Linked DNA regions of Homo sapiens. The protein of the gene in region 7 interacts with the protein of the main gene of each other region in a pairwise test. Each region holds a gene or a part of one and is shown on either strand. Other genes may lie near its edges.

Region 1 (3,500 bases), on a different chromosome or scaffold from region 7:
TGGTTGTGTGCAGTCATAGTGAATGGGCAGATGCTTCCATAAACATCGAGGAGGTCACTTCAGCAGAGCAGTTGATGTCACAGGACGCTCATCCTAGAGTTTTCTAGCCACAGTGCAGAGGGCAGTGGGAGGAGATGGGAATGAGAGGATGACGCTGAGTGTGGCAGAAGCAGGCAGGATCCAATGTGAGCAGGCATCGGTGACAGGCACGGGCATGCTGGCAGGGGAGTCCCATGTGCCACCCAGAAAGCTGGCTTTGCTCAAAGCCTTTAAAGTTATTAATAAAAATAAGTCATAGCAGCTAGGCAGAGACAGCACAGTTACCTGAAAGCTTTGGAAAATCATGCTGGTCTCAGACTTTCCTGCTACATACTCTCCAGAAAATAGGGCAGTTGCTAAGGAGTTTACAGGGGCAGAGTTTGGAGTGTAAGAGCTGATCTAGCAGATGTGTGGGTGTGCAGCAGAAGGGAATTGGAAGCTGCTAGAGGCTGAGCATGCCTGTCGCCCAGGAGCTTCCGGAAAACTGTCACTCCATAGCATTCCGGAGTACGCTGTGGCCACCCAAGAAACACGCTAAAATTAAGGACCCAAGAATGGGGCAGTTTTGACCTAAAAGGACCGGCCACAGCTTTGATTAGAAGTGAAAGGAGGGAACTTGTATGTGGACAAGAATAGAAAACAGAGGACCTGGCAGTCCAGAGATGTGGGCACAGGAGGGGAGAGTTCAGCTGTGCGGCGAGGGTTGGCGTGGACGGGACAGCCGTGCCCTCGGGGGTCGGTGAGGACGGGGCGGCCGTGCCCTCAGAGGTGGGTCGGTGAGGACGGGGCGGCCGTGCCCTCAGAGGTGGGTCGGTGAGGACGGGGCGGCCGTGCCCTCAGAGGTGGGTCGGTGAGGACGGGGCGGCCGTGCCCTCAGAGGGGGGTCAGCGAGGACGGGGCGGCCGTGCCCTCAGCGGGGGGTCAGCGAGGACGGGGCGGCCGTGCCCTCAGAGGGGTGCGGTGAGAACAGGGCGGCGGTGCCCTCAGAGAGGGTTCAGTGAGGACAGGGTGGCCGTGCCCTCAGAGGGGCGTCAGTGAGGATGGGGTGGCCGTGCCTTCGGGGGGTGGGTGGTGAGGACAGGGTGGCAGTACTCTCAGAGGGGGGTTGGTGTGGACAGGTTGGCCGTTCCCTCAGAGGGGGTCGGGGGGCAGTGTCTGGACTCTGTTCCACTGGGAAGGAGGAACTGGCGGGCTCCATGTGGGTGGGAGGGCCGGGATGGCTCCCGGGGTCTCTATCACCAGCTCCTGGGGGTGAGCCGGGTTGGCTGCAGGAGAGCGGGTGGCAGTGGTACAGGGAGGCCGTCTGCATTCCAGGCAGGACGCTTTACAGGCAGCCGGAGCTGCAGGGCTGAACCCAACCCAGCTTACGAGGGCTTTTCTCCTGGTTTTTTCTTGTAAAGGTTTTACAGTTTTAGGTTTTATATTTGAACCTGCCATCCATGTTGAGTTTGTTTGCTGAACAATCATCTTACTTGCCACGGTCTTCTGTCTTATTCTGAACACACGTTCACTCCCACCCCGAGGACCTCAAATGTCCCTGCCCAGCTGAGCACCTGGCCTGAAGTCGAATCTCATGGTCTACATGTGATGTGGCTCCTTGTGATTGGGAGACACAAGAAAGACAAGTTCCAGTCCCCAAAACCCCACGTACTCCGATAGCACAGGCAGGGCTGCTGCCTTCACGAGGGAGGAAAGCAGCCACGTGGCGTCTGAATTATGTGCAGCAGGTGTCCTCACTCTCACCTAGAGCGAGGATGCACCTCTCCCGGGTCATCATGCTCCGGGGGCAGGTTCACACTCCATGTCATGCTCTGGCTCTCAGCTCTGTCCCGGGACCTCCTCCTCTTTCCCTCCTCAGCCACTTCTGAGGAGGGCATTAGAGAGTGCGCCCTTCATGGTGGGTGAGTGGCGGCCTCAGCTGTGTCTGTGAGCGTCGTAGGTTTCTGCTGTCAAGGACGAGCCACGTGCTTTGTCTCAGAACTGCACGATCCATCTGTGGCTCACTCTTCTTGCTCCTGGCCTCCTGGGAAGCAGGTCACAGCCGTGTTCAGGCGACTCTGAGTGGCTGTAGTCTATGTGTTAGGAAAAGGCCTCGTGGAAGGGTTCAGGGAGGCAGACGGCCTAGAGAACCCACCCTCTCCTGATGGTTGGCACCTCCTTTTCCTGACATTGGCTTCATTCCAGGCAAAGTTGGCCAAGAATTACGGCATGACCCGCATGGACCCCTACTGCCGACTGCGCCTGGGCTACGCGGTGTACGAGACGCCCACGGCACACAATGGCGCCAAGAATCCCCGCTGGAATAAGGTCATCCACTGCACGGTGCCCCCAGGCGTGGACTCTTTCTATCTCGAGATCTTCGATGAGGTGAGAGGGACGTGCCAGCTATTATGGAGGCTGCACGTGGCTGAGCGTGGCTGCCGTGGGGACACACCTGCCAACACAGCCACGTTCCTGGCTGGCTTCGAGGCGTGGCTCCCCACCTGGTGTTTCATTGGGTGCATGACAGGGTCCTGCTCTCCCCAAGGAATGTGAAAAAGGGATTGTTTCCAGCTCCTTGAACATACTTACATTTGGAAACATCCCCAGTGACAAGCATGACCCAGGGATACAGCGTGCACGTGTCCCCTCCGCTGGGCGCACAGGGTCTGGCCGCTCACCAGCAGGTGGGATTTCCAGGGACAGAGCGTGCACGTGTCCCCTCCGCTGGGCACTGATCTGGCCGCTCACCAGCAGGTGGGATTTCCAGGGACAGAGCATGCATGTGTCCCCCGCCACTGGGCACTCGTCTGGCCGCTCACCAGCAGGTGGGATTTCCAGGGACAGAGCATGCATGTGTCCGCCCCGCTGGGCGCACAGGGTCTTGCCGCACACCAGCAGGTGGGATTTCCAGGGACAGAGTGTGCACGTGTCCACTGGGCACTCGTCTGGCCGCTCACCAGCAGGTGGGATTTCCAGGGACAGAGCGTGCATGTGTCCGCCCCGCTGGGCGCACAGGGTCCGGCCGCTCACCAGCAGGTGGGATTTCCAGAGAGTGCGGCTGCCTACTGGGTGGGAAAGCTGTTCTTGGTGGTGCGAATGGTCGTGACCCTTGAGGGTCCTGAGTCCCGTCCGTGGCTGCACCTGCAGCGCTTCTGAGGCAGAGTCAGAAGGTCAGAGGGGATGTGGCGAGGCTGCTGCTCAGTGTGGTCCTGGCACCTCGCACCTGTGGCATTGTGAGGCTAGAGACTGGGTGGGGGCCGGGGAGCAGTGTGGGGCAGCCAGGCCAGCAGACGGCCAGCCCTCCCTGCCTGGGCCCTGCCTTTTCCTCCCGGCTTTTCTCTCCCCGTCCCTACCTGCTTTCCCCTCCCTGGCCCTCAGAAGAGTAGAGAGCGCATGGGAAGTGCAGAGTCAGCTGTGGGAGGCAGACCCCGTGTCCTTTCCAGTCTGCACCCCGGCTGCTCTGGGGCTTGACAGGTGGC
Region 2 (4,130 bases), on a different chromosome or scaffold from region 7:
CCAAATCCCATCCACTTGTTACTTTCAGTGGATAAGGGACTGAAGGACTTTGGTCCCAACTCTGCCCTAAACTAGTTGTGAGACCTTCAAAAAGTTATGAATTTTTTGCCATCTTCATTTATTCATCTGTAAAATGAAAGACTGGAATTGAATATTACAAGGGTCTATCTAAGGGCCTGCTAGTTTTAAGAATTTTGCTCAAATCATCGTTTTCAAACTCCTGAAGAAATTACTTCTATAAATTCATTAGAATTGAAAGGAAATTCAGTATTTGGAGAATCACGATTTTGCCCACAGAATTCAAGGATTTATTGGAAAAATATACATACTTGCAAATGTTTTTGAAATATTATGACCTTAACTCATTTTAAAAAGTCATTTATATAGGGCTTGCATCCCATTCATTAACTTTCTGTTGTTAACATTTTCTTCATTCTGAGCTTTTAAAGACTGCACACAACTTCATGAACAAAATACAGGATTAAAATTTTCTGACAGAAAATTTAAATTCCAGTTTTAAAATCTTCAGGGAGTAATTAAATGGTCTTGAGGGGAAAAAAAACTTGGTTGCAGACCTTAGTTTTTAGGTCTGAGAAAATGGAGTAAATGGCTTCCTGCTTGCGTGGCAGGAAAGTTTGCCTTTAAATAAGAGATTATCTGTGAAATACCTTTGAACTCTGTGGAGGGAAGTTGCTGCATACATTCAATGGCAAGGCATTTATTACAAGCTCACGATATTAGGCTGTTTTTTTTTTTTTTTTTTGCCAATACTTCCTCAGTTTTGAAAAATTACGTGGGTTACTTGATTTGTATTTTTTTTCATACCTGTAGAAGTTAGGGTGCATTGTTTTGACAGGAGCAGGGAAGTATTGTAGAAAATAATTTTTATCATAATGGAGTATGGCAGGTTATATGACTGCGAGGATCAGAATTGTGAATCATCTCTTGTGTGTCTTCAAGTAAATAAAGGCAATCTGCCCACGGAGCAGAAAAAAAATCTACAAACTACAAACTCTGTCCAATCATGTAAAGACAAATCAGCCTTCAGGCAAATCAAATGTCTTCATTCAAAGTCTACCTGGATTTGGCACTCTGCCCATCGTTTCAAAACCTCTTAACAATACGTTTCACAAATAGTTAAAAACATGCATACTGAAAAGCATACTTTTGCAATGTTATTTTTAAAAACAAGGAACTCTTTAACCCAGGGAAGATAATCACTTGGGGAAAGGAAGGTTCGTTTCTGAGTTAGCAACAAGTAAATGCAGCACTAGTGGGTGGGATTGAGGTATGCCCTGGTGCATAAATAGAGACTCAGCTGTGCTGGCACACTCAGAAGCTTGGACCGCATCCTAGCCGCCGACTCACACAAGGCAGGTGGGTGAGGAAATCCAGGTAAGGCTCCTGACAGCAGCTTTAGAAGGGTACTTGCTGGAGTGAATTCGGGCCTCTGATTGCTATATAAAGTTGTAGGCAATCAAGCAACAGAGAACTGCAAGTTTCCAAAGGCAATGAAGTAGGATACGGAAGGGAAATCATGGAATTTCCACAAAAGTCTTACTGGGGCCTTTCTTTGGCTAGAGCTGGCACAGTGTGACGTTCCCGAGTTAGTTCAGAGAAATGCTTTCTCTTTTGCGAAACAAAATTTCCAAGAGTAGGTGAATCCTAGGATTTTTCAAGCCTGGGACAGGGTCCAGGGATTTTCGTCTCAGTCACCATCTAAAGCTTTCTTTCCCACGGGCTAAAGCAAAGCCCCATAGGCTTCTCCACTATGACACCTCAGCTCGGATTGCCCGCTTGGAATATATTATTGCAAATCAGAAAACAGTTTTCTTTCTCTTTTTGCTGCAAAGACATTCTTGTTGCCTCTGCAATCTTTAAATTCATGGGATAGGCTATTAGAGGAGAGAGCTGGTTGCTTTCCTGAAGCATCTACAAATAGGGACACTAAAATGTCTTGCAAGTTCATTATTTGCTAAAGACAAGAAGACAGGGATACGGTGATGAGTAAAAAGTGCTGGCTTCACATAATGTGTGTGTGTGTGTGTGTGTGTGTGTGTGTACCTATGTCTGTGTGTGTCTCCAAATTATCAATATTTTCCATGGAATTGTGTTTTGAGGTGGTTTATGCAGGAAATTTGCAGAGCAGAATCTATTCACATTACGAAAACTCAGTGGAGTGAATCTCAGAAAGTCACCCCACAGCAGGATGTTTGTACAGCAGGAGTTATGTTAGCCTTCCTTGAGTCATCCTGCCGTAAAACACAAGCAATATATCAATAGTTCCAACCTGTGATCTTTGGAGATACTGCAAGGTCCTAATAGCTACTTGGAAAACAAGAACTGTAAATGGGCTAAGTAAATAAAAATGCCTTACCATCAATTTACTATTTTTTAGAATATATATAGATGCTGTTATAAATAAAAGATAAAATCAAATGTTTGTTGATAGATTCAAAGAAATTATTTGCCATATGTTTCTGAACCAGCCAGTATTCCAAATGTATAATTATTCTCATGTAAAAGTTCTTGATTTTTTTAACATTACAAAGAAGTCTTTATACAAAGAGGGCTGAGAATTGTTGACTTACAGTGAACACTTAGGTTGTTTTTGCAAAACTCTAGAAGACAAAAGTTATTGGCATTTCCACATCTTTGTAGGTATAGAAAATGAACAAAGTATATCCCTGATTTTTGCTTACATCTTTTCTGAGTAAGACATTTTGTGCTTACATACTATGGATTAGTTAATCATTGGTCAGTTAAATACAAAACATCATTTCGATCTGGTAGCTTAGCAACACTTAAAAAAAAATCAGCTAATGCTTAGCAAAGGTTTCCACTCAAGATATTAGATTATGAAAAACTTCCTGCTTAACAATAGTAATTCCTTGCAGAGTTTATTTGACTTCATTCAAAACCATTCACCAATACTAGAGTTAGGTGCCGGGGTTTCATATTTCCTTTTTAGCACTTTTAGTGTTTGGTTTTATCAGAATCCCAAATCTCCAGCCTTCCATGTTACGGCCCCGTGGACAACCTTAGTGACTTGCTAGAGCAACTCACTTTGCTCCCTCCCTCCCTCCTCACTCACAAAACTTATCTTGCCATGTACTTTCCTTTTCATAGGCTTTAGTTTTTCCTGGGAATCAACTGTGGCATACCAGAAAGAAAAAGTAATTTAACTAAGATATCAGCTAGGCGTGGTGGCTCACTCCTGTAATCCCAGCACTTTCGGAGGCCAAGGCAGGAGGATCACTTGAGGTCAGGAGTTTGAGACCAGCCTGGGCAGCATGACAAAACTCCATCTCTACTAAAAAATACAAAAGCATAGCCAAGTATGCTGGCACGTGCCTGTAGCCCCAGCTCCTTGGGAGGCTGAGGAGGGAGGATCACTTGAACCCAGGAGGTGGAGGTTGCAGTGAGCCACGATTGTGCCACTGTACTCCAGCCTGGGCAACACAGTGAGCCCTTGTCTCCAAAAAAAGTAAATGTAAATTTTCTTAGCTACTAGAGTATGTATATCTATTTTCTCAAAATATATCTCTATTTATCTATTTCTATATAGATATATATATCTATATAGATAACTCTATATCTATAGAGATCTATATCTTTTTGTCTTTATCTATGTGGATCAATAGACAGCTATCCATACTATATACAAACAGTCCCAACTTACAGAAGTTTGACTTAATTTTTTGACTTTATGATGGTGCAAAAGCAATACACATTCAGTAGAAACTGTATTTCAAGTATCCATATAACCATTCTGGTTTTTACTTCCAATAGAGTATTCATAAAAATTACTTGAGATATTTAACACTTTACTATAAAATGGGCTTTGTGTTGGATGGCTTTTCCCAACTTTAGGCTAATGTGAGTGTTCTGAGCACATTTACGGTAGGTTCAGCTGTGGTGTTCAGTGGGTTAGGTGTATTACGGTAGTTCCCCCATTATCTGTGGGGGTTATGGTCCATGACCCTCAGTGGATGCCTGAAACCGCACATTAGTACCAAACACTACATATGCTATGTTTTTTCCTATGCATACATATCTATGATAAAGTTGAAATTATAAATTAAGCACAATAAGAGATTAATAAGAGCTAATAATAAAACAGAACAATT
Region 3 (3,216 bases), on a different chromosome or scaffold from region 7:
CAGGCTTTTGAAGGCCTTGAAGGATGTGTTAGGGATTTGGAAGCCACTGGAAAGATGAGCAGGGGTGGAGAGTGATTTAGGAATGTTGTTGTCATGCTGCCCAAAGCAAAGTAGATGAAGATTCGAGGTAGAAGCACACTTCTGCACAGGTGGCCCTAAGATGGTGATGGTGGAGTGGAAGGAGCAGATGAGCCAAGAGGACAGGAAATGAGGTCGGTGTAAAGGGCAGGGACAGGCCAGGGGTGCACAGGGATGAGTCTGGATTTGGCTGCCTTGAGGGCTGTCTACAGTAAGCATACTTAAGCGGATGTGCTAGAACTAATGTCATTATTTATTTGCCACAACCTAAAGAGACAGGCAAGTATTAGTCGCCCGTCACAGAGAAGGTCCAGGGTGTCCAGGGCCCACTGTGGAAAGCTCTGCCTGGCTTGCCCCTGCTCCGCCGGCCGTTACCCGCTACCCACTCATACTGTCGTCCAAAAACTGGGCAGTGAAAAGTCACAGGTCAGATACAAATTGGACAGATTTGGTGTGAACATTTACAAGCTCATCCCGTACGCTATGTTTCAGTGGTCACCTAAATATTCTCATTTCAGGACTTTTTAAAACACATTTTCCCAAATCTAACTTGGGACAAAATCTAACTTGGGACATTTAAATAGGTTATCAATAATTATCTGTTTATGGCCTCTTTCGGCACACAAATAAGCATCTCCCTGTACAAAATTCTAGTGTATGCTGAGCTGATTGATTGCCTTCTGCATACACCTTTTCTACAACTTCTCAAACGTGTGTGACATGCTGGTAAGATGGCAGGAAAAGGAGTGACTGAATAATACAATATAGCTGAGATGTGTTTCAAGAAAACCTCTGGGCCAGGGTAGGGGTTTGTGAGCGGGAGCCAAGGACTTGCCCCATGTTTCTAATCAAGGTGAGACCACTGACACATGTGGTCAGCAAATATGTTCTATACACACATCCGCACACTGTCATCTAACCCATCCGTTCTCCCATCCACAGCATCTCCAGGACAAAGCCATCGCAACTAGGGAGGGGTTGACACCTGCTCTCCTAACATGTTTTCTTTCTGTTTCAGGCTTGAAAAACCCTTGCCCAGTTTTGATCCCTTCAAGACTTTGTCACAGCCTCTATCACACATCTGTTTTTCTCGAAGAAAAAAATATAATTAATAAAAATGTTTTACTCTTTTACACTGTATAATTGTAAGAAATAGCGTATTATTTGTGAATGCATGGTCTGAAATTTCTGTACAGTTTGGAGATATTTTCAAACGAAACGTAAGAGAAGTCAACAATAAAACCAAGAAAAGTGAGTATTTTTATACCAAACATTTTAAGTATGCTGGGATGGACGATCTTACACTGGTTTGGATCACAGTTTTTGTTCTTGACTTTTGAATGCTTGTAATTAAAAATATCTATTTTTTTCCTCTGAAGTAAGTTGCATGTTTGAGGCATGTTTCCAAATATTATCAAAATATCCTGAATTGTATTGTGAATATATAGAAATCTGTGCCTGGCCGGAGTCCAGGGTAAATTAGTAGCATGGTGTTAGATGTTAGAAACAGAACTGTTATTTGCAGTGTTAGGTCTAGGATCCCAGTTCTAGTAGGACAGCCCTGCAAGACAATCAACCAGAAGCCTCCAGGAGCTTCTACCTATGGCTTATTCACAACTGGGCAAGAAAACATCATTGGTAAGAACTGCTGAGTGTGCCCTTAGAAAGCCCTAGTAGCTCCAGCTGTGACTATATCAACTGTGTGCCAAGTGTGACTTTGTACAGTTTTATGTTTCCACTCTCCTGTATGTGTAGCCACTCGATGCCTAACCTACCTTCCACAAGCCAGCCCCGCATCCCTGCTCCCGCAGTGTAAGTGCAGAGCCTGCCTCACTGGTAAGGGAAAACCTTGGCTTGGGAGGCCAGCCCTGGCCCTTGAAGGGGTTGGCTGTGCCCAGCCCACCTGGCTGCAGTGGGCAGCTCATGTCTGTATCTCCAAAGTGATGTTTGTTTGCAAAACACCGGCTGAACTGAGCTGGTGTTGCCAACTCTTGGCAGCACTGGGCCAAACCGACCACATACCATGAGCTCCCAAATGGCGTGTGCTCACTGTGAGACGTCCTGCCACACCCCACAGGAGACGGAGGCAGTGGGCATTTGGAACCAATTCTATTCAGACTTCGTCAAAGCCAAAGTCAGTCTGGTGTTGTCAGTTGACACATCTCCAGAGTTCATGACAGCTCAACCTCTCCCCTTGTACAGAAGCCATTTTTGTAAAACCACACTGACCTAAATTCAGCTGCCAAACACAGTCTTTCCTATTGATCCGCTCGGCTTATGTTGAAAATTTCAATGTCATGATTACCTGGTTGGTTTGGGTTTTTGTTTTGTTATTTTCCATTAGAAATATAAAGATGTCAAGAAGCTTTTAAAGGTCAACACAAAAAACCAAGGCCAGGAGTGAGGGGCTCTTTCTTACCGTAAATAAGGGGAAAAGGCAGTTAGCTCAAGGACTTGTGACGGATCCACTTTGGTGTTCAAGGACCTGCTTATGCCCTCAGTGCCAATCGGCTCTTGGTGAGATGACTGTACTCCTAAGGAAAATAGCCACTTCTGCAGTCTATTATGCTTTTATAACTGTTTAAAGGTACTTTTCTATTGTCATTTTTAAAAAATAAAGTGCTTATTCCAGCTGTCACACCATTGCTTGACAAATTCTTTTTTAGCAAGACCAACTACATGTATCCCACACTGCAGACAAGACGCCAGCAGATTTCATTCCCATTGTCAGGCTTCGGCAGAGCTAAGCAAGCATTGGCCATTGAGCTTAGGCACAAAGAGATTAAAGGAGGAAGCAGATACCGGGGAAAGCCAGAGAGTAAGTCTGCAAACGCACAACCACAGTGGCTGGTGACCCACAATGACACCAGAGGCAGAGGGACCTCAAGGGAGGCCCCTCATCTACCTCAGCCTACAAAGCTTGACTCAGGATTATCTGAATTATATTAAAATGTCACTTGGGTTTTCTGCTGACTTAAATATATCTTACGCCAGGCATGGTGGCTCACACCTGTAATCCCAACACTGGGAAACTGAGGCAGGAGGCTTGCTTGATCCCAGGAGTTTGAGACCAGCCTGGACAACACAGCAAGACCCTCAATTTTAACATTAGCCAGGAGTACTAGCACCTGTGGTCCT
Region 4 (3,500 bases), on a different chromosome or scaffold from region 7:
TGAATCCATTTAGTAACATTATTCCCTTCTGATAATTAGCAAACAATAGGATAAGGAAGTAGCTGTGTATCTACAAACACATGAGTAATTAGTGGTACAAACAAAATTATAATCCAACCCTTCTTTATTTATTTGCACTTGATCTATTAAAATCTTTGCTATCCACTCAAATTTTGTGCTTTTATAGGTGGATAATAGAACATGGCAAGTTGAGATTCCCAGTTTTATTTCCGGCTTTGCAATATTTTCACTGGGGTTTGGGCTTATAATTTCCATTCTCCAAAACTTCACTTCTTCTCTTGTTAAAACAGAATGGTAATTTCTGCCCCTTCCTTTCCTCCTTTGCCAGGGTGATGGTTGTGGTTAGAAGCACACTGGGCTCCTCAGAGAAAGATGCTTTGGGAGCATTAGAACAATTCAGCATCTCCTTCTGAGATGCATTGAGAGTCATGCAAAGAGGCCAGCAGGCCACGGGTAGCTCTGCCAATGCATGGGGCATCTTGCAGCCAAAGTGGGTACAAACAGGTGGGCACAAACAAGACACAAGATTTATTGGGTTTCCCAAGGGCCCTGTGGGAATCCAGTCTAGAGCCAAAGTCTAGAGTCCCTCTGCGCCATACTTCTTTGCTCTGGGTCTAGGCCAGTTAGGAGATTTGAAAGATCTAGTGGAGCCAAGAATGAATTAGCTTCCAATTCTCTGGGGAAGAATAGGTTGGGTCCTTTTGCAATAGGCTTTGGCTTTCTGGACTTCTCTTTCATTGCACTTATCATATTTTGTTGTAAGTGATAATTTAATGTCCTTTTTCTCCATTAGACTCTAAACTCTGAGAGGTCAACCTGTAGCACAGTATCTGGTACATAGTAGATGTTCACTGAAGATTTACTGAATGGATGGGTGAAAGAATGAATGAATGAATGAGGCTTCATCTTCGCCATATATACCATCACAGTATCCCAGAGCAGCCATCTTCATGATCCCTTGGCCTAAGAGTTTTAAGTTCCACTTTGCTTCCCAAAACCCTTTGCACCTTCAGATCTACCAGGATCAAGTCAGTCTTTTAAAAAAATACCAGGTAGTCTTCTGGGAGTGAGGGCCTTGCATCCTCCTGTGTGTTGACATGAGGAGTTATTCAGGAGATCCACTTGCCCATCCTGTGCAGCAGTGAAGCTGGAGGAAACCTTGGTGGCACTCCCTGGGGCCAGTATTTGTTAATCCCTATTTTATATTCCCTGCTCTGATTTCTTCCAGGCCCAGATAATAAGAGGATGGCCAGGAATGTCTTGAAATATGAAAGGCTCTTGGCAGAGAGCCCCAACCACGTGGTAGCTGAGGCTGTCATCCAGAGGCCCAATATACCCCACCTGCAGACCAGAGACACCTACGAGGGGCTATGTCAGACCCTGGGTTCCCAGGTAGGATTCCTCAGGGAAAGAGAAAGGGGGAGAGGCCTGGCTAGAGTTTGAGAAGCTAGAATTGGGATAACATGAGGGGATAGAGCTGATGCATTAAAAACAATAAAGCTCACTTGGGCAGCATCAGAGTGACCACATTCTGTATCTCTTGCATTCCAATTTTTTTATGCCATAGTTCCCCTAAGTTGAGTTTTGCTCCTAGACCCTTCTTCTCTTATGCTCATCCTATTCTTTCCTTCCAGCCCACTCTCTACCAGATCCCTAGCCTCTACTGTTCCTATGAGACCAATTCCAACGCCTACCTGCTGCTCCAGCCCATCCGGAAGGAGGTCATCCACCTGGAGCCCTACATTGCTCTCTACCATGACTTCGTCAGTGACTCAGAGGCTCAGAAAATTAGAGAACTTGCAGAACCATGGGTGAGTGTCCTGAGAACCCGCCAAGAATTTCTCTTTCATCTTCACATGCCTGGAGTTCAGGAGTGTAAGAATAGGCAACCTGAACAACTAGACACCTCAAAGAGCCAAGGAGTTCAGAATGCCAACCATTCCATAAAACTAGTCCATGGTGGAAAAAAATCACAATAGTGCTTGCCTCTAGAGGGAAAGGATTAACTGGATGATGTACAAGAGGATTCTCTGGGGTATTGAAAATGTGCTCTCAATATCTTGTTAGGGACGTGGTACATGTGGCTGTATGCATTTGTCAAAACTCACCAAATGGTCCACTTGAGACCTGTGTATATCATTGTATGTAAGTTTAACCTAAAAAAAGACAAATAAAAAAGAACACTTCAAAAGTGTCAACCATTCTATGTAATTGGTAGAGGTGGGGAAAAGGGTGAAATGACAGCGGCAAGGAGTAAAATCCTAGCACAAATTTACAGAGTTAGAGTAGAAAGCTAAACTTCATTATTTTGTTAAAAAGGAAACCGAGGCCCAGAGAGGGGAAGGGACTTGTTAAGCTCATACATGTAGCTAGAGCCACAGCTAGAACTTAGAGGTACAGTAGTCCCCCTTATTTGCAATTTTACTTTCTGTGGTTTCAGTTATTCTCAGTGTAGTACAATAAGATATTTTGAGAGAGAGAGGTCATTTTCCCATAATTTTATTACAGTATATTATTATTATTATATTTTATTGTTAATCTCTGTGCCTCATTTATGAATTATAAATTATAACATATAATTATAAATTAAACTTTGTAATTCAGTTACAATCATTATTATAATTTCGTTATAAAAAGAACCAAAGGAGGCCAGAATGATCAGGGCTAGCGGGCCCAACGAAGGTGCAGGGCTTCAACTGAGTCTCCAAAGATGGGCAGAATGTGGCGAGAAGTGTTGAGTGAGTGTGCTTTGGGAAAGGGACAGTGACTAGGAAGCAGATATTCAACACAAGCCACTGAGGCATCTGTCTTCAGTTTCCATGGGGGAGCCACTACCATGTGAGCCCAGGGCTGATTCCTGGGAGAGCCACAAACCAGACAGGCATCAGCAGCCCCAGAGAGATGCTTCTAGGGGAAGGAAGTGTGCCAAGGTCTGTGCATGCCAAATGGACGACACGGCCATGAATGACTAAATAGACATCTCTGGGTGGGTCACTTCTCCCATTACCATGGCAACAGGGCTGTTTTAAGGAAAAATTTAGTTATAATGTAATTATGATTATAATTAAATTACAATCATGATTAAATTAAATTACAATCATGATTAGATTAAATTTTGATTGAAGCCATCCCACTGTCTTCACTTGGAGACCCAGCCTGACAGAGCAGCCTCTGTATGGGACATTGCCAGTCTCATGGAAGAGGAAAAAGACAAATGGCAAACATGAGCTGGTTCATAAAGCTTCTGCATGGAAGTGCCAGATGTTACTTCCACCCATGTTTCACTGGTCAGAGCAAAGCATGTGGGCACTACTGCAGTTAACAGCAAGGTTCTAATTCTTCCACAGGGAAAGCACTGCAAGTCACCAAGCCAAGCTGGATGTCAATGGGAAGAGGACATTTAATCCTCCCCCTAGGAAGTGTGCTAAATATTAACAAGAAAAAATGCACCTCTATAAGCATGTTGCCTCTTTAAAGAT
Region 5 (3,500 bases), on a different chromosome or scaffold from region 7:
TTGTAGAGATGGGGTTTTGCCATGTTGCCCACAGTCTTGAACTCCTGGGTTCATTCTGCTGAAAGAGACCACACCTGTCCTTTTCTTTATTTTTATTATATTTTTCAGAGACAGGGCCTTGCCCTGTTGCTCAGGCTAGAGTGCAATGGTACAATCATAACTTGCTGCAGCCTGGAACTCCTCCTGGGCTCAAGCGATCCTACCGTCTCACCTTCCGGAATAGCTGAGACTAAGGGCAGGCACCACCACGCTTGGCTAATTTTTTTTTTTTTTTTTTTTTTTTTGCTTTTTGTTTGTAAAGATGGAAACTTGCTATGTTGCTCAGCTGGTTCCGAAGTTTTGGCCTCAAGCAATCCTCCTGCCTCGGCCTCCGGAAGCACTGGGATTACAGGCATAAGCCACCAGGCCTGACGCCAGGCCTGTCTTTTTTCTACTAGTGATATGAACAATTTAGTTAGCAAGACAGATAGGAAGCAAGGAAGGGGAGACCCAGAGAATTCGTTGCATTCTAAACTAGTCCACTCATCTACCAAAGCCCTGTGAAGGACATTTTTAGCAGTTTTAGCAGTTTTCTGGTCAAAACTTTGATCGAGAAACAGATTGAGTGGATTCGATATTCTCTTGCTCACCCAGCCACGCCAGTTTGTCTCCTCTGCCTCCTAGTGCAGCTGTCCAGGCCTGGGACACCAGGCGGGTATGTGCGCATGTGGGGCAGGGCGGAGGTGGTGTGTGTACTTGTTATATTTAGCCACCTCCCTCTGTTCTCCCCCACTGATCCTGGCTGGAAAGGCTGGGCTTCCGGAAAAGAGAGGTGGATTTGCACACCTGGATCCCAAGCTGATAGAAAGTGGGGTGAAGACAAAGGGGACTCAGACTGGGGTGTCTGTCCTCTTCTATGCCCACAGTAGGAGGAGCCAGGATTGGTTACTCCCTGCTGGGTCTGCTGTGCTCAGAGTGAGGTAGAGAAGTGGGTAGAGTAAAGAATTTGGGAGAGGAAAAAAGGCATTTTCCCAACCCCTCCCACCAAAGCCTAGAGAGAAGGTGTTGTCTGGTTTAATGTTTAATTAGAGCTCAGAGTTCAGGGCCAGATTTGGAGTTGGGATGGAAAGTTGTTTTTAAGACCCTGTAGCAATTTTTGACCCAGCCTGGGTACCTCAACCACACTCAGGAGTTTGGGGGACCTTCTGTTGGGCTGGATTATAGGCTCCAAGAAGAAACCCCTTTCGCCAATACTCTCTCTCTCTTCTTTTTTTGAGACAGGGTCTTGTTCTGTTGCCCAGGCTGGGGTGCAGTGGCATGATCACAGCTCACTGCAACGTCAGCCTCACAGGCTCTGGTGATTCTCCCACCTCAGCCTCCTGAGTAGCTGGGATTACAAGTGTGTGCCACCATGCCCAGCTAATTTTTTTTTTCTTTTTTTTTTTTTGAGACGGAGTCTTGTTCTGTTGCCAGGCTGGAGTGCAGTGGTGCGATCTCGGCTCATTGCAACCTCCACCTCCCAGGTTCAAGCGATTCTCCTGCCTCAGCCTCCCGAGTAGCTGGGACTACAGGCACATGCCATCACGCCCAGTTAATTTTTGTATTTTTAGTAGAGTTGGGGTTTCACCATGTTGGCCAGGATGGTCTTGATCTCTTGACCTCGTGATCCGTCCACCTTGGCCTCCCAAAGTGCTGGGATTACAGGTGTGAGCCACCGTACCCGGCCACTAATTTTTATATATTTTGTAGAGATGGGGTTTCACCGTGTTGCCCAAGCTGGTCTCGAACTCCTAGGCTCAAGTAATCCACCTGCCTTGGCCTTGGCCTCCCAAAGTGCTGGGATGTATAGGCATGAGCTACCGCACCTGGTACCCCCTGCCCCTTCTCTGTCTCTTTCTAGTCTGTAGCCCAAGGGATTTGGATACCCAAGTGCAGGCAGAATGGGAAGGTTGTAAGCACCAGGGAAGCCTGTCTGGAGTCCAGGCTTGCAGCTGGGCCCCACCCCAGGCAAGGCAGCTGGGTGGATGACTCAGATGCTGCCCCCCTCCCTCCCACCCTGGTGGCTTTACAGAAGACAGCAGGAGACAGGGTGGAGACAGCAGTTGTCTTAAAGGGAGGAGTGGTGGTCTGAATGTCTACCTCTTCTGCCCCCCTCCCCATTGCATCCTGGAGTCCCTTGCCTGGCTCCTTCCTGAGACCCTCTGGTGGTGTCTGGACACATAGCTCTCTCTGGACAGGTAACATGCACAAGTAATTAGAATCCAGAGTTGAGTTCAGAGTTATGGATTGGGCTGCAGGATAGTGCCAGGGTCTGTGCCTTCCCATGTGAAACTGATGGAGGAAGGCTGAGTCAGAAGTGGGGAGATCCGAGGCCCACAAAGCAGAAGCGCTACTTCCACTCCAAAAAGGCCCTGGTGCTTGACAACTTCCTGGATTGCCCACTGTTGCAGCCCCAGTGTGGACAGGCAGGGAGATGCAGGCTCCAGTTCATGTAGGCTCTGATCAAGACAAGAACAGCAAAGGCCACAGAGGCACAGATGCTTGTCCCATGTCACACAATAAAGGGGTCAGCACTTGATCACAGGCCTTATGACTTCCAGCTGGGTGTGCTCTTACCATTAAGCCTCACTTCTCTAGCTTGGGGGACAGGTTGGAGGGAGGATCTAGAGGGTGAGGTAAGGTGAAGTCAGGTAGCTGAGGCTCACTTCTGCAGCCTGGAAACTCTGCTCTGGGGCCAGTGACACCTTAGTGCTCTATGGCCATACTTCGTGGCTCATGCCTGTAATCCCAGTGCTTTGGGAGGCTAAGGCAGGAGGATCACTTGAGGCCAGGAGTTTGAGACCAGTCTGGGCAACATAGCAAGACCCCCTTCTGTACAAAAAAATTAGCCGGTCAACACCTGTAGTCCAGCTGCTTGGGAAGCTGAGGCGGGAGGATCACCTGAAGCCAGGAGTTTGAGGCTATTGTGAGCTATGACTGCACTACTGCACTCTAGCCTGGGAGAGAGAAAGACCCTGTCTCTGAAAAAGAAAAAAACAAAACAAAACTCTGCTGTCCTGCAGGGCCTGTTAGCATATGATCGATAGCCTTTGCTCCAGCCTATACCTGGACCCAGGACCCCTGCCAGCCCCTCAATCGTGAGACGGTCAGAGCTCTGGGAGGCTGGTGATTCTTGTCTTGAGACTATCTTGAGACTTGTCATGGGAATTGTCCACCCGGATTGAAAGGAAGCTGTGCCTTTTGGCAGACCCATTAGGTTAATGGGGTTGGAGACCTTTGAGGATGCATGGGCCCTGGGCTTTATCTGAGGGTATCTCCTGGTGTTACCTCTCCAACCCTCCACCACCAAATCCATTCTTTTTTTTTTTTTTTTTTTTTTTTTGACAGTCTCGCTCCCTGGCCCAGGCTGGAGTGCAGTGGCATGATCTTGGCTTACTGCAATCTCCACCTCCCAGGCTCAAGTGATCCTCCCACCTCAGCCTCCCAAGAAGCTGGGACTATAGGCACGTGCCACATGCTCG
Region 6 (3,500 bases), on a different chromosome or scaffold from region 7:
TTTACTTGAAAGAACGACTAGCAGACTATGGTTTTTCACACTTAGTATTTGGCAGATATTTCTTGAAAATGAAGTGAGCTTGTCACTTTTAGGAAAACAACTGACAGTATTTATTACCAGTGATAAAATTTGGGTGAAAATTAGAATTTTTAAAAAGTTGACAGCTGGAGTTTGACAGCTTCCTAGTACTTAAAAGACTTTCCTTATGATATCAGTGGTTAAGGACTGCAATATTTTAAAATGTTGTTTAATGAAATATGTTATTTGGAAGATGGGCATAACTCAGTAAATCTAGGCTTTGCAAATGACCAATGCATGATGTTGCAAAATCAAGCAAAGGCAAAAGATCCTTTGAAAATTCCAGACATAGCAATGGATTTTAACAGTAAAAAAGTGGATTGATGTGGTTTCAGATTCCAAAATGTTAACTGTCCTTTAAGAAACTACTATTTGGCCTAGCGTGGTGGCTCACTCCTGTAATCCCAGCACTTTGGGAGGCCAAGGTGGAAGGATTGTGTGAGCCCAGGAGTTGGAGTTGAGCCTGGTCAGCATAGTGAGACCCTGTCTCTATTTATTAAAAAAAAAAAAAAAAAAAAAAAAGAAAGAAACTACCGTTTGTTGAGTTTTAGTATTTACCAAACACAGTTATCTGAAAAGGTTATTAAAATACTTCTCCCTTTTCCGACTAGATTTTCATTATATACTTAACCAAAGCTACATATAGCAACAGACTGAATGCAGAAGTAACTGTGAGAATCCAACCATCTTTTATCAAGTTAGACATAAAAGAGATTTGCAAAATGCAAAACAACGTTACTTTTCTCACTTTTTGGAGGGAAAGTATTTTTTGTTGAAATGTTATTTATGTTAACTTATAATGGGCTTGTCTTAAAATACATTGATAAATACTACATTTTAAAAATTTGTGGTAAATGTGGAAAGATAAAATTCACATAAACAAAAGATCTTTGGCGTCTTCAATAATTTTAAGAGTCAAAAAAATGAGAATCATTCAGTCAGTCCTATGTTTCTGCTCTTTACATCATTCAAATCTAACTCCCTTGGGGAACTTGGGAGAATTTATAAATAGTTGAAGTTGATGGAAGAGGCAGTGACCTGGGGAAGAATTCTAAAGCAAAAAAAGCTTGCTTTGAATCCTAACTGGGATATTTACTAACTGTAACCTTGAGGAAGTTACTTCGTCTCTCTAAACCACTGTTTTGACCTTATCTGTAAAATAAAAACTTTAGAGCTGGTTGATTACAAATCCTAGAGCTGGTTAATGCCTTTGCCATAATATCAATATGGTAACATTTTGATAGATTCTTTGGTATTCTTGTTTGTGATATTAAGCCATATTCACAAAAACTTGTCTTTTTTTTTTTTTTGAGATGGAGTCTCGCTCTATTGCCCAGGCTGGAGCGTAATGGCGCAATCTCGGCTCACTGCACCCTCCGCCTCCTGGGTTCAAGCGATTCTCCTCCTTCAGCTTCCTCAGTAGCTGGGATTACAGGCACGCGCCACCACACCTGGGTAATTTTTGTATTTTTCTAGAGATGGGGTTTCACCATATTGATCAGGCTGGTCTCAAACTCCTGACCTCTTGATCGACCCGCCTTGGCCTCCCAAAGTGCTGGGATTACAGGCGTGAGCCACCACGCCCAACTGAAAAACGTATTTTTATATGTAACCAAGGGGAGGAGAGCAGAAAAGAGACACTAACCTATTGCTAGGTGTTAGCAGAGTTAAAAGAAATTGAAAGCATAGAAATGGAATTTAGGCAACACACAGCTGTCATTGAAGAAAAGTTTTCCATCATAGTATAGATATTTTTCTTGGGAAAGGGACTCCTGAATATTGAACCCCTTTAAAGAAGAGAACTTGTTGCTTACTTGTTTTAGTAAAGAGCACAGAACTAAATATTTGGGTGTTTCTTGATACAGGATTGGCTACCAGACAAGAGGAAAGTATTTTGAGTTTGGAAATTTTAGGTTATTAAGACTACTTAAAACCCTTATGATTCTTACATATGAGGTACTATAACAGATGTTGTGAGGGACAAAATGGGCTGTGCAAAAGACTGGATAAATAAAAGCTTATTACATGTTTAACTATAGTTTTATACACAGATTAAGTATTCAGCCCTATAGGTTTTCTGGTATTAGTCCTTTTTAGAGCCAAAAATTGAGGTAACTTGAAAACATAATTACCAGTTATGTTGAGGATTATCATTGTTTATTTTTCACCCTGGAACAAGAAAGTGGTATTCTTAAAATGTTTGTTTTCTGTAAAATATTTTTCCTGTTCCAAATGTTCTTTTTATGTTGATTTTTGGGCAGGTATGTACTGGCAGTAAGTTGAAAACGTTAGATACCAAATTCTTCATTTCTGAATTCTTCATTCTTCATTTCTGGACTTTACAGCTATGAAAGAACAAGACAAAGGAATTCAGAGCTTTCAAGAACCAAGTATGTCAGGATAGTTGTGGAAAACAGATCTTTTTCTCATTTTCTTTGAGATGAAGATAGGCAACATTTGCTGCCCATTAAATACCTTAAAAGTATACAGGTGTATCTGCAGGATTCTTTTTGCTGCTTTTAAATAGTATATTGTTTTAAAAGGTCTGTTTTTATCTTGCCTTTACAATTATATAGACTTTTATTGACTAGCTGATCATATAGGGCCTTAGTATAGACTACCATATTCGCCAGCATTTAAGAAATAGTCCCCTTCCCTCCAGGAGAGTATTTATCTGGTACTCCCATATTATGGATTGAAGGATGAGACAAGAGACTGAGTATTGCTAATAGTTCTGTGTGAGCCTGCAGTGTTAAGTAAAACCTATTGAGTGCACAAAAAAATCATGTTACAATTACTACAAAATAGAGAAACCACCTAGGTTACCAAGATGTCAAATAATGGATTAATGGAAGAAAGTAATGTACCTCCTTGGTAGCCTACATAATCCACCTTAATTTGTTATTTCTTATTTAACTATTTTGCTATGTCTTAAGAAATGTATATTAAGTGAAAATGGATGCATAAAAATAAAAAAAGAGAAATGTATATATACAAGCTACATGAAAATTGGTCCTGGGAATAAATCAAGAAATTCAACCAACAAGGCTACCAGTTATTTAGTAAATACCAAAGAGATAGGTGGAATGTAGCAGTACAGAATATCACAGCTAAGATATGAGTAGGTAGTTCCACTCCCTCCTACCCCACCTCAGTTTTTATTAAGAAAATTTCACGCATGCGAAAAGGGAGAAAGAGGCTGGGCGCAGTGGCTCACACCTGTAACCGAAGCACTTTGGGAGGCCAAGATGGGCGGATCACAAGGTCAGGAGTTCAAGACCAGCCTGACCAACATGGTGAAACCTGTCTCTACTAAAAATACAAAAATTAGCTGGGCGTTGTGGCGCATGCATGTAATCCCAGCTACTCAGGAGGCTGAGGCAGGAAAATCACTTGAACCTGGGAGGTGGAGGTTGCAGTGA
Region 7 (4,122 bases):
ATAGGCAGAAGTTCCCTTTCTTTTATTCTGAGGTTGAAAGAAACCGCAGCCCGATAGGATTGCAAGAGGAACCCTTAAGGAATCTGCTCCTTGATGGGCGCTAGGAAATACACGTACATCTAGTACAAAGGAATGCACATCACATGGCCCCCTGTTTTGGAAAGCTTACAGCATTTCTTATAAGAGGATCCATGGTATAAGTGCAAACACAGTCACATCACAGGATGGGAAAATGAACAGGCGCCTCAGATCAAGTGCTCAAGGCTGGAATCTGGCCTTGTCCAATGCCACCTGCCCTTCAGAAGGCAGGGTGGTGCCACATAAAATGAGGTAGACTGCCTGGGGAGTCCTGGTTCCTTGCCAGCTATGTGACCTTGAACAAATTACAACTCACTGAACCTCAGACTGACTTTATTGTACAACAAAACCCCCTGGAATATTTGTGGAAAAAAGAGGAAGGGAGAAAGGAAGGAAGGGAGGAAAGGAGGAAGGAAGAAAGGGAGGGAGGAAGGAAGGGAGGGAGGGAAAGGAAAAGGTAGGGGAAGAGCAGAGTTTCTCACTCCAGTCCAGAGTGGGACCCAGGAAGGGAGAAATATTGCTTTAATCTCTCTAAGCATCTGTGAAATGGATAAACCTCCAGTATCTACTTCCAGTTGTTGAAAAGACTCCATGTAAAGTGCTTAAAACAGCATCTGGTGGAAAGTAAATGCTTATTAAGTGCTAGTGTGTATTAAGGCGTCATGGGGCTTCTGGCTGTAAGACATCTGCTAGGAGGACAATCCCTAGACCCCTTCAGCGTCCATTGCGGGAGTAGGTGGCCAGGAAGGGGGCAGGACAGGAGAGGCCCAGCTGTGCGGGGTGGGGGCGTCCCAGGCCAGCCGCACCCACCCCAGCCCTGCATCCCATCCAGCCTGGAGAACTTTTTGAATCTTGGATAGGGCTCGATCTCTGCCTGGCCGGAAGATTTGAAGACTTGCCAGAAAACTTCCTCAGAGAAGAAATGGACTGGGGCAAGAAGCTGCCTCCACTTGGCGTCTCTAGTGGGGGATTTGTCTACTTTGATTGGGGTTGGGAGGAGGGCGCTGGTGCTCAATGAGTGAGCCCACCTGGGGACTACCAGGACGAGGACGGGCGCAGGTGAAAGTCCTGGGCTCATTGCCCCAGCATCCAACTTTCACCCTCTGTCCCCTTTAGGCCAGGAGACCAGGGTACCGGGTCGCGTGTCCGCCGCCGCCGCCCGCTGGAATCCAGGGCTGCACGCGTGACCGCGGCGGCGGCGGCGCTGGCGAGGGGAAGGGGGAGGGGGCGCTCCCTCGCGCACCAGATTATTTTTGGCTCCGCAGCCGGGGCTGCTCGCTGCTTGTCGCGCGCTCACACACACACAGACACACACGCACACACACACATGCACACATTTTCTCGCGCTCTCTCCGGCTCTCCTTTGTTTATTTTCTAATCTATATTTTTACTGGAAGATTTCCTCTTTATTCTCTCCCGCCCTCCTACAAGCGCTCTTGCTGGCCGTCTGGGTGCACACACCGCTCCCTCGATCACCCCAGCCCCCTTCCTGGTCTCCCGAGCGCGGGGTTTGAAGGTCACCTCCTTTCCAGTCCCCGTGCGAGCCGCGCTGCCGCCGCCTCCTCCAGCCAGAGTCGGTGGGACTGGCTGCGCTGCCCTGAAGTGGTTCTCCAAGCAGCGCGGAGGGTGGCGGACGGCGGACGGAGCCCAGGGGCCGCGTCGGGTGGGGAAACCCGAACTCGCGGAGGGGAATCCCTCCCCCTCCGCCCCAGCCCCCCAGCAGCACCCGCGGTGGGGCGGGGGCGCTCTGCCAGCCCCGGGAACAGCAGAGGCGGCGGCACTGGCTGGACCCACGCGCGCGCCTCCGGGGCTGAAGAAGGAAGGAGTGAGCCGAGCCGAGCACCCCACATCTGGAGGGGACAGCCAGCCGTGGGCCCCGCCCCGGCGTCCGGAGCAGGAGAACTCCGAGCTTCTTGCCCAGGCAGAGAGAGCAGGAGCGGACCGCGCGCCCGGGATTGAGAGTCCTTGCGCTCCAGACCCCCACCCAGTGGCCGCCAGGGTCCCCGCCTGTCCGGACCCTCGCCGCGCCCAGGCAGGCGCGCCAGGGCGGGGCTGACCTGCCCGCGAAGTTGCGGACAGTGCGTGAGAAACCAGCACCCCCTTCCGCCGCCTCCAGCTTATGGTGAGTGTGGCTGGGGGTGCAGAGAGCGCACGGGAATTCGGGGGTCTGGGGCCGAGAACGTGACCGCAGCCGGGCTCGCCGGGAGTTCTAGGTAAGTCCAGGCGGAGTCATTGCCTCTGCACCCACCCTGACCTGGTGGGTCAGGTCCAGAAGGTCTCATGGAGGGAAGCGCTAGGTCCCCGAGAACTGGCCTCCTCCTAGCGCCAGTCTGGGCGCTCTGGACGGGAACTTTTTCAGGGTGTGTGGAAAGATCTCGAGGCGTGTCCCCCCCTACCCCCAGGAGGCCGAGACCCTGAGCCCCCTTGTGCGTCGCTTCCAGAAGCACGTCCTTCCTTGCCCCAGAGCGCCCCTCCGAAGCATCCAGGCTACCTCGTCCGTCCTCCTGGGAGCGAGTCCTAGGTGCCAGGAGCAGCGGGAGCCTGCCTGCGCACTTTGATTAGTCTCCCTGGCCGGCTGCAAGCGTGCACTCAGCGCGCCCCCGGACCGCTGCCTCCGCCCGCAGGGTGTGCAGGAGGAGGCATCTTAGTGACCCGGGAGGGTGTTTAGGTGCCCCGAACCCCTTGTGGGAGGAGGGGAAGAGAAGGCTCACTTATGTGGAGAAAGCGCCGCTGTGTTTACTGGCACTGGAATCGATGCCCCGCGGTGCCACCTCGACCCCAGGGGAGGGGGCCAGCCGGGAAACCTGCGAATGGGAAACTCCTACTGTGCCCCTGGTTCCTGGGAGCCTTAGAGAACCTTCACCCCAGAGAAGGAAACACAGGGGTAGCAGATCTTAGCCCTGTGTTGTTGTGCAGGCCAGGGGGGGGCTTGTCAGCTCCAATCAACCAATTGTCCAGCTATGGAAGCGAGGGCGGGGCTAGTGGGGCGCCGCTCCCATCTCCCCACCGCCCAGGAGGCCACTTGGCTGTGAGCTCCTGGAGCCTCCCTGGCGCCAGCTGCGGGGACCAGGTGTCACGCGGAGCCCGGAAGCTGTCCACTCAGCAAGGGAGGGGAAGACCCCGATCTAACCTTGTCCTGGAGCCCCCAGCTCCATTCCTTGCTGCCAGGGAATGGTCAGGGGGCTGGGAGAGCTCATCGCTCCTGTGTGGGCCAGAGCTGGGGTGCACCTGCTGGCACTGGAACATCTGGGGTGCGGCTACTGAAGAGCTTGGAAATCCTGGTCAGGCAGTCCGGGCAATTGGCACCCCAAAGGCGGATCTTTTCAGTTGAACTTGAAAAGAAGTGGGGGAGTGTGGTGAAATAGCTTTGTTGAGTTGAAACATCATGTCTCCTAACTTGGGTTTTCCTTTATTAGAATAATGATTGTTTATTTTTATTTTTAAACTCCGTTGTGCAGAGAGGCCTGGCCTTGACAGCCCAAGTTTAGGACATGCCCCAGCCTGCCATCCCTTCCCTGCCCCCTGTCCTAGTTCATCTCCCCTCCATTTATCATTTTATCTTTGTTACAAAAGAGAGAAAAAAAAGATGAGAGGGCCTGGATTCTTTCAATTTTTAAGTGACCACAGAGGCCCCGGCTGGAGCTACTGGCAGATTTATTTTTAGCTAAGATCTTTTATGTTCAGAAGCAAAGGACCTGGGGCCTGTGAAGGGTAAAGGTGGTGCTGGCAGTGGCTGTGCTGGTAAAAAGTGGGGCTGACTCAAAACCTGTGTCCTCTTTGAGCTCGTCAGGGAGGCCCTCCGTTTGGAAGAATCCCCTGGGCTTTCCTTAAGTTAGCTTATGGTTGCCTCGGGTTAGGAAGAAAAGTCATCATTCCTCGCGGTAGTGGAAGTGACACCTTAGGGGTCCAGAGAGTGGAGCTTTATGGCTCAGAAGAGCACAGGGCTTCTGGATCCGTTATCTGCCAGCTGTGTGACCTTGGGCAAGTTGCTTTACCTCTCTGAGCTTCGGGTTGTCACCTGTAAAATCAGAGTTTCAGTCGTAG

The links.
Region 1: the proteins of RBFOX1 (region 7) and TOLLIP interact in binary tests that used the Homo sapiens proteins (3 or more experiments, as listed by UniProt).
Region 2: the proteins of RBFOX1 (region 7) and AGR2 interact in binary tests that used the Homo sapiens proteins (3 or more experiments, as listed by UniProt).
Region 3: the proteins of RBFOX1 (region 7) and RBPMS interact in binary tests that used the Homo sapiens proteins (3 or more experiments, as listed by UniProt).
Region 4: the proteins of RBFOX1 (region 7) and P4HA3 interact in binary tests that used the Homo sapiens proteins (3 or more experiments, as listed by UniProt).
Region 5: the proteins of RBFOX1 (region 7) and LMNA interact in binary tests that used the Homo sapiens proteins (3 or more experiments, as listed by UniProt).
Region 6: the proteins of RBFOX1 (region 7) and POGZ interact in binary tests that used the Homo sapiens proteins (3 or more experiments, as listed by UniProt).

The regions. Positions count from the first base shown.
Region 1 is NC_000011.10:1,289,133-1,292,632, reverse strand, and holds part of TOLLIP (toll-interacting protein), read left to right. Parts: intron 1-2,223; coding exon 2,224-2,406; intron 2,407-3,313; exon of another isoform or gene 3,314-3,500. UniProt on the Homo sapiens protein: Component of the signaling pathway of IL-1 and Toll-like receptors. Inhibits cell activation by microbial products. Recruits IRAK1 to the IL-1 receptor complex. Inhibits IRAK1 phosphorylation and kinase activity.
Region 2 is NC_000007.14:16,802,200-16,806,329, reverse strand, and holds the start of AGR2 (anterior gradient protein 2 homolog precursor), read left to right. Parts: upstream 1-1,330; 5' UTR 1,331-1,395; intron 1,396-4,130. UniProt on the Homo sapiens protein: Required for MUC2 post-transcriptional synthesis and secretion. May play a role in the production of mucus by intestinal cells. Proto-oncogene that may play a role in cell migration, cell differentiation and cell growth. Promotes cell adhesion.
Region 3 is NC_000008.11:30,569,541-30,572,756, forward strand, and holds the end of RBPMS (RNA-binding protein with multiple splicing), read left to right. Parts: intron 1-1,096; coding exon of another isoform or gene 1,097-1,190; 3' UTR 1,191-2,716; downstream 2,717-3,216.
Region 4 is NC_000011.10:74,284,141-74,287,640, reverse strand, and holds part of P4HA3 (prolyl 4-hydroxylase subunit alpha-3 isoform 1 precursor), read left to right. Parts: intron 1-1,249; coding exon 1,250-1,413; intron 1,414-1,655; coding exon 1,656-1,832; intron 1,833-3,500. UniProt on the Homo sapiens protein: Catalyzes the post-translational formation of 4-hydroxyproline in -Xaa-Pro-Gly- sequences in collagens and other proteins.
Region 5 is NC_000001.11:156,117,711-156,121,210, forward strand, and holds part of LMNA (lamin), read left to right. Parts: intron 1-3,500.
Region 6 is NC_000001.11:151,452,995-151,456,494, reverse strand, and holds part of POGZ (pogo transposable element with ZNF domain), read left to right. Parts: intron 1-1,592; exon of another isoform or gene 1,593-2,468; intron 2,469-3,500. UniProt on the Homo sapiens protein: Plays a role in mitotic cell cycle progression and is involved in kinetochore assembly and mitotic sister chromatid cohesion.
Region 7 is NC_000016.10:6,017,702-6,021,823, forward strand, and holds the start of RBFOX1 (RNA binding protein fox-1 homolog 1), read left to right. Parts: upstream 1-1,322; 5' UTR 1,323-2,197; coding exon of another isoform or gene 2,198-2,200; 5' UTR 2,201-2,291; intron 2,292-4,122. UniProt on the Homo sapiens protein: RNA-binding protein that regulates alternative splicing events by binding to 5'-UGCAUGU-3' elements. Regulates alternative splicing of tissue-specific exons and of differentially spliced exons during erythropoiesis.